Homo sapiens: one gene and its partners. The protein of the gene in region 1 interacts with the protein of each later gene in a biochemical or structural test. Each region holds a gene or a part of one and is shown in the gene's direction. Other genes may lie near its edges.

Region 1 (2,835 bases):
AGCTGTGGGACTCAGACTGTCTTGGGACTGAGAGTCGTGGTGAGGAATGTCCGGGGAGAGTCAGTATCCAGGGTGGGCTGCAGCTGCTTCTTAGAGTGAAGTGAGTCTATCCAGGGTGGGCTGCAGTTGCTCCTTACAGCAAAGTGAGTGGTCAGCTCTGATTCAGGCCTCCTCTGAGGACCAGTGTCTTTTGGGCCAGTGACCAGGCAGGTGGTATTGAGGAGGGCCTTGGAAGGGCTCAGGAAACGAGGAAGCCTTGAGGGCAGGACCAGATATGCCAAGGGTGGGGGCGTCCACTCACCTCACTCAATGCTCCTGCACAGTGCTGGGGGTGGCATGTGGTGGCTGTAGTGGTTGAGTTAGATCCCGTTACAGAAATACCGATTATTACAATCTGACAGTGACCCCTCTATTCATTTAGGGCAAGGCATCCCTTTCAGCAGGGGGGGAACTGAAACTGCTGCTATACATTTTTTTATTGCTACATGTTGGAAACTCCAGATGTGATTCTTCTGAAAGTCTTGATTATTTTTACACAGTTTTTAATAGCAGATTTTAAGGGTCATTATGGAAATATAGTATAGCAGGAAAGCTTGATGGAATGAAAGACCTAAGTACATATTTTATTATAAACATATGTAACAGCTCTGCTAATTCCAATTTTCTACTTAGAAAGTTTTGTGCATTTGTCAAAAGGGTATTACCTTTAACCTCCCTGTAGTCTCCCTTTTTTGGATAGAGGGTAATATAAACTATGATGAACACCCTTCCTATATAAAGGCTATCTTAGCACCCCATGGGAGCAGAGTGGGATGAAAGAACAGGGTGTGTGGAGTGTTCATTCCCATCCCTTTGTCATCAGCAGGAATCAGGATCAGAAAAGTCCCCTCACTAAAGAAAGTCACCCCTTCTCCCCTCAAAAAGTACATAAGTAAAAATAAGAATCAAAGATTCTCGTAGCCCAGCTTAGGAGGAATGAATGTATCGATCAGTCTCCATGACTCAGTTTATTTCTGCTCTGACCAGGAAAAACAAGACAAGGCCGTTCTCCAAGCAGAAGTGCAGCACCTGAGACAGGACAACATGAGACTGCAGGAGGAGTCCCAGACCGCGACAGCTCAGCTGCGGAAATTCACAGAATGGTTTTTCACCACCATCGACAAAAAATCTTAGCCAATCCGCACCTCATCAAGGGACCACTGGGAAATGCCCCTTGTCCCTTTGAAGTCACAAACATGTGGTTTTTCTGTGTGCTTTCAACCAATCGTAGATGTTTTTGCTGTTCCATTCTGTGTAGCACCATTCACCACAGCAGGATAGGGAGCCTCGACTCTTTCTCGGTAACCACGGCAGAGAGCAGCGCCGATGTGAAGATGAATGAATGTAACTCCTGGTGTGAAGATGAATGTAAACCCTGGCGACAGTTGAGACCTTTTTCTTTTAGACTCTGCTAAAACAGTGCTCTGGCTTGGGCTTACCTCAAGAGGGAAGATAGTTGAGTTTTATTTCCTGTATATCAGGTGACCTGGTAGAGATGTAAAGCAATTTACCATAGTTTGGGCTTTAGTATTGTAAAATAAACATGAGAACAAATAATCAGACATATACTTTAATGTTAAAGGTGCTCTATTTTTTTGGATGTACAGTAGTTTTATTTCCACAGCCACATTACCATAGCAATAAGAAAGGAGGCATAGTACATAGTTGGAAAAGCTTTGTGGGGGGATTAAAAAAAAAAAAAAGCACTGTTGTGTTTAACACTAGTTCAGATGCAGTTACCTTAGAGACTTATTTATTTGCAGGAACAAATGGTGCCTGAATATTAACAGTGTTCTGATTAAAAACAAAAAAAAGATACATATGCCTTGTAAATGGCTCACCGAGTGGTCAGTAGTCACTTCAACTCTTAGTTCACTTTTGTATAGTTGCTCTGCTGGAAAGAAATGAGAGTGAATCTGCTTACTCACTAGAACTTCCCTGTGTGCTGTGAGCCAGCGGAACCACTTGTACAATGCCAGATTTGTTTATCTTTGTACAGAAGCTTTGATGAAGTGTCTTGTATTTAACACCCTTATTTAAGCTTATTTAACCTTAAATTGTTAATTTTATAAAATTTGGTTTGGCCTGCACTACGATGAGGGATGGAGGTAGCTGCAGGCTCAGAAGAGACTGAGCTTGCACAGATCAGACCGAGAAGCAGGGTGAGAGATTCTAACGACTGGATGCTGCTAGTAACACATTGTTTGTATTGCTTTACCATTTTTAACTGTTAGATTTGAGATGAACATACATTTTGCTTTTTTAATAAATGTTTAAAAGAAGTCCACATAAGAAATGGTGTTGTCAGGTGACTAGATTTTTTGTGATCTAACATGTCAACAGTCTGACTGTATGTGAATTTATTTCAGGTCATTTAGAACCTTGATTTGTATTAAATACTGTTCAGCTCCTTTCTCATAGAATCCCAGATCGATTTCAGGAAGGAGTACCTAGCAGTTTTTAATAGCTGCTGTGTGGCGGACACTATTCTCTGAACTTTTCATCCATCTCATTTAACCCCAATGGTATCTATCCTTCATAGGTAGGAGGTGGGGTTCCCATTTACAACCACATGAACTGTGGGTCAAGTGAAGTAATTTACGCAAGACTGCCTTTAAAAAAATAAAATAAAATAACACTTTGGTGTTGCCAGCACTTTGAGAGGCCAAGGCGGGTGGATCACCTGAGGTTAGGAGTTCAAGACCAGCCTGACCAACATGGAGAAACCCTGTCTCTACTAAAAGTACAAAATTAGCCGGGCATGGTGGCACATGCCTGTAATCCCAGCTACTCGGG
Region 2 (3,500 bases), on another chromosome or scaffold:
TGGAAATATGGTAATTATGTTTTCTTCAGTTCAGCTAGGCAGTACTGTGTATGTGTGAATGTATGTGTGGTTGGAGGGGGAGTTAGCATTACAGAGAATCTTTTGGGATTCTTTTGAACTTTGATTAACAAGTGATGGATGATAAATACTTTGTTTTCTAAAAGGCAGAATCTCTTATAAATGGTGTCTGTGGTCAAATTCAAATATAATACATTGAAACATGGAGACTAGAAACAAAATGAAACAAAATTCTCCCTCCATTCATTTTCTATTTTTTTTTCCTGTTTATGATCTAAGCCAACAGTTCTCAAGCTGGGGTGAGTCCCCCTCCCTACTTCCCCAGATCCCCATCCATGGGACATTTGGAGACATTTTTGGTTGTCACAACAGGGGACGGGGTGTGCTACTGGCATCTAGTTGGGTAGAGGGCAGGGATGCTTCTAATCGTCCTAAAATACATGGTACAGCCTTCCACAACAAAGAGTTAGCTGGCTCAATATGTCAGTAGTGTAGAGGTCAAAAAACCCTGTTCTAAGAAAACCAAATACCACATGTTCCTATAAGTAGGAGCAAAATGATGAGAAAACATGAAAACAAAGAACAGAACAGCAGACACTGGGGTCTACTCAAGGATGGAGGGTGGGAGGAGGTAGATGAGCAGAAAAGATAACTATTGGGTACTGGACTTAATACCTGGGTAATGAAGTAATCTGCACAGCAAACCCCATTATACGAGTTTACCCATGTAACAGACCTTCACATGTACCCCCAAACCTAAAATACAAATTAAAAAAAAAGGAAAAACTCAGTTCTAAACTCTTAAATTTTAAAAGCAGTAGTTTATTAGTAAAAGGGCTCTGCTCTCTTCCCCCTAAAGTTAGTAATCTAAATTTTACAAGTACATGGTATTGATGATCTCCAGGTAACGTTGTATTGAAAGATTTTTATCTTTTCATTATCTTTTAAATTAGAATATGATTAAATTAGAGAAACAGACTATAGATACGCACATTCTTTCATCCTTGATGAAATGCTTGAGAATTCACCAGTATAGTATAATATTTTATACTATAATAAAATATTCCAATGACTTATGGATAAACTCTCCTATCACCGATTTTGATAGAGTGCTCATGAAGACTGCATGTTCCTGGACATAATGAATGATTGGTTAAGGTATCAAGTTTAATTATATTTGCTTTAGATCCAGGATTTTCTTTGCCATGATATGATCTTTAAGGATATTTGCCTTTATTTTTACTGACATCATTGGGCTGCCTTATGGCGGTATTCGTGTGTGTGTGTAACATGTTGCCTGAAATATGTTCACTATTACATGTTCCCTGAATAGTTTCAAGGTAGAAATTCTGTTTTTTTAAAAAAGATATTTCTTTTGTCTAGCTAACTTTAATTTCAAGAAACTTTTAACCTAATCTCTTAATTACATAATTATCTTGAGAATCACTAGCTGGGTTTTGGTTACCGTTAGACTAATTCATGATACAGTAAGTAATATTTTATGATCTATTGCAGATCGTTTCCCTTTTTAAGGCTAAATCTTGACCATAATTAATAAAATGCTTACCTTGTTTTGAACTCTGGTTTTAAGGGAGTTAACCTAGCCAACCAAGATAAGAATTACAGTGAAACTCTTAGCAAATTAAGGAGCATTATACCATAGAGAGGAAAATTCTGAAGTCATTCCCACAAATGGTGTCCAAATGAGCCTCACAGTGTCTTTGTAACACACCTCTCCATACCCTTCTCTCTGATACTGACATTTTCGCCTTTTGGGTCCACCAGACTCACTGTTCTTAAGAGAAGCACAACTAAACCAAATGAGATTTTAGTAATCTCTAAATTGTTTCTTTAGATTCCAAGACTTTATTTTGTTGCATTTTGACTTTTTAAAGTGCTACTATGATTTTCTCATCTTTGATATTTCATGAGTCCAATGATTTAAATTTGTGTTTTCATGGTCTGTTAAGTTGCCAGTTGCCATGTTGTCTCAGATTATAGGTAAGGTTGGCAACATTTGATACTAGGGGTCACTGGTATGCCTTAGCTTTTTGCTCACTGCTCTGTAACTCATTGTTTTTTCCATTCCCTTTCATTATTGTTCCCTTTCCATTTTCCTCCCTTCTTTGTCTACTCCCTTTTCTTCCCCTGACCCTTCTGTACTTCCTTATACTGCTTGCTTGTGGAACCCAGTTGTGGCTTAGCATCATGGGTGACTCCAGAGGGCTTACCCGTAGTTTTAATGAAAACAGATTGAATTTAGAATGCTTGAGAATTGACCAGATAGTCTTTTCCACTGTTTTTTCATTTACTGGTTTCTGGACTACCTCGCACACCCTCTTGGGAATAGTGTTACTCTCTTAGAATCAAATGGCTTGAACTTTAGATTGCTCTTATTCTCTTTTTTAATATTCAGGTTTTCCTTAACTCTTTGCTGCTTCAGAAAAAGTTTCGCTCATCTTATTATTCATTTATCATCTCTGTTTAAGCCAAAATTTGACTAGAACCAAGAGTATATTTATTGCTGCTGATAGGACCACATTAGACTTCCTCTGTGGTAGATTTAATTCTGTTAGATTGTAAAATAGTCATGTCTAGACAGAACATTGATTTCAAATTGACTATTGAACATGAAAATTCCAGGAATAGTGTATAGAGGAAGGAGGAGGAGGAGGAGAAATCAAGAAGGTAAGAAAACTACTGTAGATAGCAAGTGACTTTCTGTCATTCTCCACCTAGATTTCTTGTTAGTCACTTTTGTATACCCAGTGCATCTAGAGGTCAGGCTTTGTTTTAATAAAGGGACTTAAAGGAAATATGTTTTTGTCTCTGAGATTGGATTTTTTGAACTGTTAGAGTGGTGGACCTAAGGGAAAGAATTGGAAACTTCATATGGATAGTGATCAAGAATGTGGTCGTAGAGGTTGGTAGACTTGAGCTGTGGTGTCAGTGCTGCCAGTATCTAGCTTATGTATCATTTTCTGTTACTTGATTATTGTAGCACTTTTCTAGCTAAGATTCACCAGTTCCCTATCACTACTTCCTTTTCTTTCTAGTCCATCTGCATAGCTGCTGGAGTGATCTTATTAAAAAATAAATCTGAATATGTTACCCTTGCTTAAAACCTTTCACTGACTGTGAGTCACCTTTAGCATAGAATCTAAAGTCTTAGAATGTCATAAAAGGTCCTTCATCGTTTGGTTCCTGCCTATTTTTTCTAACCTCTTGGTATTGGTTAAGAGTATAGACTCTGGATATAGACCTAATTGGTTTAAATCTTGGTTTCATAACTTAACCTTGGTCAAGTTACTTCACCTTTGTGTGCCTCAGTTTTCTCATCTACACAATGGGGGGATATTAATAGTGCCTACCTCAGAGAGTGGTTTGAATATTAAATGCTAGTTATTCTGCTGCAGCTTCTCCTCAGCCTGAGTACTATATTCCATCCATACAGACTTGACTTGCAGTTTCTTAAATGTGTA
Region 3 (3,500 bases), on another chromosome or scaffold:
TCTCCCTCCTTCCCATGTTATGCCTTTCCTGGATAGAACCCGCTATTATGAAACTTACATTAGGTATGTGCTCATTACCTGTTTTTGTGTTAAATACTGTGATGGTATGTTACCAGCTGGCCTCTCTGAGTGCTGAAGAATGAGAAACACTTCTTTGAGCCAGCCTATTAAAGGTTATCATAATTCATGGCTGTGGACTCAGAGGTCAGAGGTTGTTGCTTCTAAGCAAAGGCACCTTCAGATCCATATCTCTGTCGACTCTGTTGCCATCCAAGGACTGGTGTCCACACACAAGGTGCACCCCATGGGCTGGCTCCTGCAGGCCTCGCGATGGCACTAGGAGCATCCATTGTGCATTTACAGGGGCCTCAGCCTGTGTGGCTGGCAGCTCCGGCTGCTCTCTGGGGTCAAGCTTCTTGTGGGTGCTTTGCAGCATGACCCAAACCTCCTGAAGGTCAGGAATGGGATCTTGTCATTTTCCCTGTAGCCCTCAAGATATGTGTAGTATATTCCACTCCACATGTATTGACCTGAGTTGAATTGTGGGCGGAATGCCCATTTTGTTGGGGGCCAAGGGAGGATGGGTCTTCCTGTGTCATGTTATGAAGTGAAGTCGGGAGCCATGTGGGCCCAAGTTGGGTGCAAGAAAGTGGAGAAGTCAGAGGAAGTGCCATCCTTCCTTTGGAGAGAGGATTGACATCACCACGTCCTTCTCTGAGGACTGAGGCCAGGATGAGCCGGGTTTCAGGGAGACTTACCACATTCCTGGGGCAGGGCAGCCTTTGGAAACATGGTGGACATGTTCTGTGACAGTTTCCCCTGTGGCACTGTATCCAGAACTCACTCGACCTTCCTGATTTGATACAGCAGGAGGTCAGTGGCCAGGAAGCTCCTTTGTTCCAGGTTCTGAAGTCACACTGGGCTGGAGCTGGGGGACTAGAAGGAGAGGGAGGGATCAGAGCAGATGCCCTGGGAACCCAGGGTCTTTTTCCCTAGGTCCATTTTTTTGTTCTGTTCTCCAAATTGCACCTATTCCTTTGGCTCCAAGGCCTCTGGACACAATGGTTTGACACCAACATTGTGCAGGGCACTGAGAGAGACCCTATCCTGGCCCGCAGGCACACCACACACACAGACACACACACGGTGCTGTTGCCAGAAGCCGGAACAGTCCAGTGCTGCCTGAGGCAGGTGCGCGCTGGGAGAAGCCAGGAGCACCCGGGCAGGGTTGCCGGCCACAGGCAGAGGTGCAGCTGCAGCAGGAATTATCTGCCGCCTGCCCAGGTTCTCAGATCCTCTCTCCCAACTGCAGGTCCGACTCAGGAGATGAACAGCTCCCAACTATTTGCCGGGAAGACCCAGAGATACATGGCTATTTCAGGGACCCCCACTGCTTGGGGGAGCAGGAGTATTTCAGTAGTGAGGAATGCTACGAGGATGACAGCTCGCCCACCTGGAGCAGGTGAGCTGCTCTGGCTCCTGTGGAGAGCGGGAGGCCGCCCTGCCCTGGTGCTCGGCCCACTCCGGAAGCCAGGGCCACCGGCAGCTGCACTTGGGCTTCCCCTAAAAAGCAAAATGGGAGCAGAAACTCCAGGCCAGAGGGAGAGTGGAGCTGGAGAAAGAGAGCCGCAGAGAGGCAGGGTGAGGGCTATTCTTTCAGACCTGTTGCCTTATTTCCACTAGGGGCCTCTGAGGCCTTTTAGTGAAGGCTTGGGAAATGGGAGATGGGCCTGCTTCGTGGCTGGGTTAATGCCTTTCCACCACCCGTCTTTGGAGAGATCAGTTTTTGCTGAATTAACACTTGGAGCTCTGGCGGCCCCAGGGCTCTGTGTGGACGGCGGCTTGGCCAGCCTGGAGCTGGGCCAGGTCCTCATGCACAGCACCTGCCTCCTGCCACTTCAAGGGGTCTCTCGGGGAGATGAAGAAATGAGGGGTCACTCAGCAGAGGGGTCCATCTTGCTTCTGTCCTACAGAAAGAATGTTTGTTAGTACAATGGGCACTCTGCTTTAGGAGGCGTAGCAGGCGGCACAGGCGGATGAAAATCGCCCTCCACCCTCTTCTCTGAACCGCACCTCACTGTGACCAGGGGCCCAGTGAAGTGGAAGTGGAATGGCAGTGAGGTGGCTTCTGGCATCTGAGCCACAGCCTGACCCTCACCCTCTGCTCCCGCAGCCCTTCCCCGTGCCTCTCTCAAATGCCTGACTTCTGAAACCACTGACTCTGAGCCAGATGAACTCGTGTTCCCTTCTCTAGGGCTTTTGCTCACACTGTGGCCCCTGCTTGGATGCCCTCACTCCGTCTGCTGGCCTCATCCCCCCTGTCGAGGGCCTGCTCTAGGGCCTTGCTTTTTATTTCCATGACTGGAATTGAAATCCCTCCCCCAACCCCCAGAAAAGAAAACCTCACGAACCGCATGAGTTCCTCTCTTCCAGCACTGGCCCTTTCCAGCTCGCATTTGATTTCTGTGTGCTCATGGCATTTTCTAAGCCCATTGAGGGTGGGGCTCATGCTTCATGCATCTTGGTGTCCTTGGTGCCCAGCACCTGGCAGAGGGAAGGCACTCAGGAGAGGGGCTCTCACGGAGGAAATGAGTGGGTGAGAGCCTGGCTCACAGGACATCTGCGATCCACATTTGCCCTGGAGCTGAGGGATCAAAACTGCCAGCACATCCCTCAGCACAGGCCTCCAGTCCTGTAATGGCCCTTGGTCTCCATCTGGAATCTTCCATGAAACTGAGGCCAGCCTTGTTCTCAGCCAATCCTACTGTGTCCAAGGGAGGAGGCGGGGAGAGGAGTATGGATGTCAGTCTGGCAGGGTTGAGTGACAGAGCTTGTTACCTAGAACCTTACTGCCCTCCTCTCTGACCTCCAGGCAAAACTATGGCTACTACAGCAGATACCCAGGCAGAAACATCGACTCTGAGAGGCCCCGAGGCTACCATCATCCCCAAGGATTCTTGGAGGACGATGACTCGCCCGTTTGCTATGATTCACGGAGATCTCCAAGGAGACGCCTACTACCTCCCACCCCAGCATGTGAGGCCAGATTTTTTGTTTTGGGTGGAACCTCCCGGGGAACAGTGTACCTCTCCCCCAACCCCCGCTCTGGGGGCCGGTGATGGATGTGTGCTGCCAGGTCAGGATCCTTAGTCCTCAAGACCAGCCCCCAGCCAGAGAGTGTGTCTGCTTTCCTTCCTTTCTCATCCATATCTCACGTGATAGAGCTCTAGCCTCTTCAGTGCTATGCTTGACTCTCTTTGAGAAGAGAGAGGCTGTGGGGCCCTAAGATTGCACGCACACATCTGGTAAGGGGTGTTTTGCATACATAGCATTGTCTTTGAACCTGGGACCATCCTGAGAGGGAGGCAAACCACACACATGCTTTTGCTGTTGTCAGCCCTGCTGCACTCTGTGATGGGGTGACTGAGCCCCCAAAGGGGAAGAGTGGGCTCAAGTGCAGAGCTGGCTGTGCCGCAGGCCTGTCTTGCAAAACCCCATGC
Region 4 (3,500 bases), on another chromosome or scaffold:
TAATACAACTTACCCTACACCGTAGCTTATTTTTCAAGTTTCTCTGAACATCTTTGTTGTCATTCACCTCTTTGTCTATTTGTTCTGTAGAGAAAACAAGTGTCATTGCTTTTGTCTTCTCCATCTAGACTTTTGCAGTCCTTAGACTATAGTTCTCCTTAGCTCTATTCAAATAGTGCACTTGCAAGGCGCTGCATTCTTCTCAAAGTCAGCCATGATGCACATATTTATAATTACATACACATATAATTGAATATGATTTTAGAGTCTTGAAAAACTGATCTTCTTTGGCACTATCCTGAATGTTTCTGATTTTCTTAAAGTGCCTGACAATATTGAGTAACAAAGCTTACCATCACCACATTGCACCATTATGTATTATTCTGTCTCCATCAATGCAGTGACATCACTGATACATCATACCAACAAGATTTCTAACCACAACCATTCAGAGCACTAATTAGCATCTATATTGAGAATATAAGATTAATATTACAAACTTGACTTTACTCATCTCTCTTTAAGATTTTGATTTCTGCACAACCATATGCAGAACTCATGTTTGAGAAGGCACTTAAAAGCTGAAAGGCCCAATTATCAGTAATTATAATGCTTGCATGATCAAAATTACAAATTATCTTTGTTGATACAATTAAAAATGAGTAATTTTCTGAGCTTATGTCACTTTTTTATAGTTCTGATTTTCTCTTCTTTCCTATCAGTTGTTTGTACACTGGAGATTTTAGCTCTTTACAGGGTGCTACAATCTGGTTTATTTTAGTCTTCTCTCCTCTACTGCTTTTTCTTCACTTTAATTCATTTATGTGCAAATCAGGGAAGAATTGCTGTAGTATTGAGAATGGTCATTTTAAAAGTCTCTACCTTAAGAGCAAAATTAATATTGCAAAATGAATTTTTGATTTTACAGAAGCATATGGGAATTTAGATCAAATTACATCTCCCATCCCAATCTCCTGCTTCTTCATCATCTCCTAAATGTTTTCCTTTCTATGTTTTTATAATATCTAGGTAAAACTTGTTTAGCATTTTTTATTTAATTATGGACATATTTAGTATGGACTTTTGTTTCTTTGGTATAGTTAGTTACACTTGTTTGCATGATCTACATGTTTTTCAGTCTCCATATATACTTGTTAATAAGGTGAGCAATATTCAGGAATATTTCAGTAGGCAATTAATGATCATAAATTTATTCACATTTCAGTAAATATTTTTCACATGATCAAACAGGATTTTTTGTTTCTTTTTAATTTAAATATGGCAAAATAAGCTAGAGAATCTCAGTGTGAAAACACTGATACTGAACATTCTATTAAAATAGAATAAGTTCGTGTAGGGACATGGATGAAATTAGAAATCATCATTCTCAGTAAACTATCGCAAGAACAAAAAACCAAACACCGCATATTCTCACTCATAGGTGGGAACTGAACAATGAGAACACATGGACACAGGAAGGGGAACATCACACTCTGGGGACTGTGGTGGGGTCGGGGGAGGGGGGAGGGATAGCATTGGGAGATATACCTAATGCTAGGTGACGAGTTAGTGGGTGCAGCGCACCAGCATGGCACATGTATACATATGTAACTAACCTGCACATTGTGCACATGTACCCTAAAACTTAAAGTATAATAATAATAAATAAAATAAAATAAAATAATAAAAATAAAAATAAAATAGAATAAGTTGATAAAAGCTCCTCTGTTCAGAAAAACAAAAGAATGGCATTTTATCTCACATAAATTTAGGATGAAATTTTAAAACATTCTTTTGACTAAGACTTTAATTCTTATATGCATCTAAAATAAATGTTTTGAGTTAGACTCAGTTTATATAGCTTCCTCGTTAGAGTACACATTTTTTTTCTCATCCTCCGAATCTCAAGAGTACATATTTCTGACAAGCTTTTCAATGGTACGATGGATTTTATTTTTCTATCATCAACTTTCTATATTTAACTAAAGCATTAGTATTTCTAGATTTAGTGAAATAGCAAATATGAATTAAAATATTTATTTCTAAACATTAGATCTAATTGTATTTTGATTTGTTTTGATATATTTATGTCTCAGAAGATATGTTTAATGAATTCATTTCATCCTCTCAACCCTCAGTTTTGATAGGTATCCACATTTTTACCATATAAAACTAGACTGGATTAAGGATTTTGCCTAAACCTATACCAATACTCTGAATAAATGCAGGGTTGGAGATAGAATTCAGGTCTTTTAACTTCTAACACACTTTTTTCTCCATTGCACTACAGAAGCCGTAAGGTCATAATGATGATCTTTGTAGAGTAAATAAAATATTTTCCTAGAAATATATATAACAACCCTACTTGATAGTTTATAGCCCAAATGAATATATTTTTCCAATCATGGTTTGCAAAATCATGTTTGCAAACTTACTTTGAAGACTATTTCCTGATTGCCACGGCAGATAATTCGTGGCAAATCAGAAATAATATTTAGTGAGATTAATTATTTTGCACAATATATGTTGTTATAGCAATATCAAAATCATTTAAAACATCAATATTGTATTAATAGAAAACATGTCAATATCTCATTAATTCCTTTTTTATTTTATGTTCCTTTTTATTTTAGAAGCAGTGTTCATTTTTTTCTGAAGTAGAACGCCAGAGCACAGAACACACAGTTCAAGTTTAAATTATTAAATTGTATGCAAGAAATTATTGCCATAGCATAGTCTTGAGGAGAACACCTCTACAGTATTTCTTGATCTAAGAACCTGAACATATGTTAATGAAATTATTAGAGTAAGTTCTATCTCAAAAATTTCTTATTTTATGAATGTTTTCTTCACCTAATAAACAATACTAAAATCCATAACAGCTGTCTGGCAACAGTGTAATTAGAGCTTCTTTTATGTTAGAGATTCCATCTACCTCTGCATCTTATCTAGCTAGATACAGTCTTTCTAAACTTTCTCCTTTATTCCCATGTAGAGAACAAACAAAAATCACACCTAAATTAAAGATCTGTGGTGAAGGGGAAGAGGGGTTGCTATTAGGAGTTTTCCCGGTAAAACTGTAAAAACAGTAATCTGCATTCAGTATTTGTTTGCCTAGTTCATCAAGATATTTACCCTAAAAACACATTTTAATAAAAATTTGGGTAAACTCATGTATCGCAGTAAAATCTTTTATGAATTGGGTGGGCCCTAAAAACATCTGTAGTACGTGATGTGTTTGGTTAGATTCAGCCAAACCGACACCCGTATGCTAAGACTGCATTGTCATTCTGACAGGAGGCAGGCCTCAGTAGTTGCAGTGAGTGCATTTACTAATATAAGGATCCTTCTTTGTAGTGACAACAAAAATGAGATTGTAACTTAATCAAATATGAGTCAGATATAGTAATTCCTGATATTGCAGATGAAAGAGCAGGGTCTTTTCAAGTGCTTGCTACAACTGACTAAATTTGAAGCTTTTTATGTAAAAGTTCTTCTCC

The links. Proteins that work in one complex are often made in the same cells at the same time.
Region 2: the proteins of SIPA1L2 (region 1) and ACVR2A interact in a test that uses a peptide from one of them, tested with the Homo sapiens proteins (one large-scale study listed by IntAct).
Region 3: the proteins of SIPA1L2 (region 1) and CACNA1D interact in a test that uses a peptide from one of them, tested with the Homo sapiens proteins (one large-scale study listed by IntAct).
Region 4: the proteins of SIPA1L2 (region 1) and SLC16A7 interact in a test that uses a peptide from one of them, tested with the Homo sapiens proteins (one large-scale study listed by IntAct).

Annotation. Positions count from the first base shown.
Region 1 is NC_000001.11:232,397,465-232,400,299, reverse strand, and holds the end of SIPA1L2 (signal-induced proliferation-associated 1-like protein 2), read left to right. Parts: intron 1-1,026; coding exon 1,027-1,173; 3' UTR 1,174-2,335; downstream 2,336-2,835.
Region 2 is NC_000002.12:147,848,029-147,851,528, forward strand, and holds part of ACVR2A (activin receptor type-2A isoform 1 precursor), read left to right. Parts: intron 1-3,500. UniProt on the Homo sapiens protein: On ligand binding, forms a receptor complex consisting of two type II and two type I transmembrane serine/threonine kinases.
Region 3 is NC_000003.12:53,802,111-53,805,610, forward strand, and holds part of CACNA1D (voltage-dependent L-type calcium channel subunit alpha-1D), read left to right. Parts: intron 1-36; coding exon 37-63; intron 64-1,312; coding exon 1,313-1,462; intron 1,463-2,872; coding exon 2,873-3,036; intron 3,037-3,500. UniProt on the Homo sapiens protein: Voltage-sensitive calcium channels (VSCC) mediate the entry of calcium ions into excitable cells and are also involved in a variety of calcium-dependent processes, including muscle contraction, hormone or neurotransmitter release, gene expression, cell motility, cell division and cell death.
Region 4 is NC_000012.12:59,784,529-59,788,028, forward strand, and holds part of SLC16A7 (monocarboxylate transporter 2), read left to right. Parts: 3' UTR 1-3,500. UniProt on the Homo sapiens protein: Proton-coupled monocarboxylate symporter. Catalyzes the rapid transport across the plasma membrane of monocarboxylates such as L-lactate, pyruvate and ketone bodies, acetoacetate, beta-hydroxybutyrate and acetate.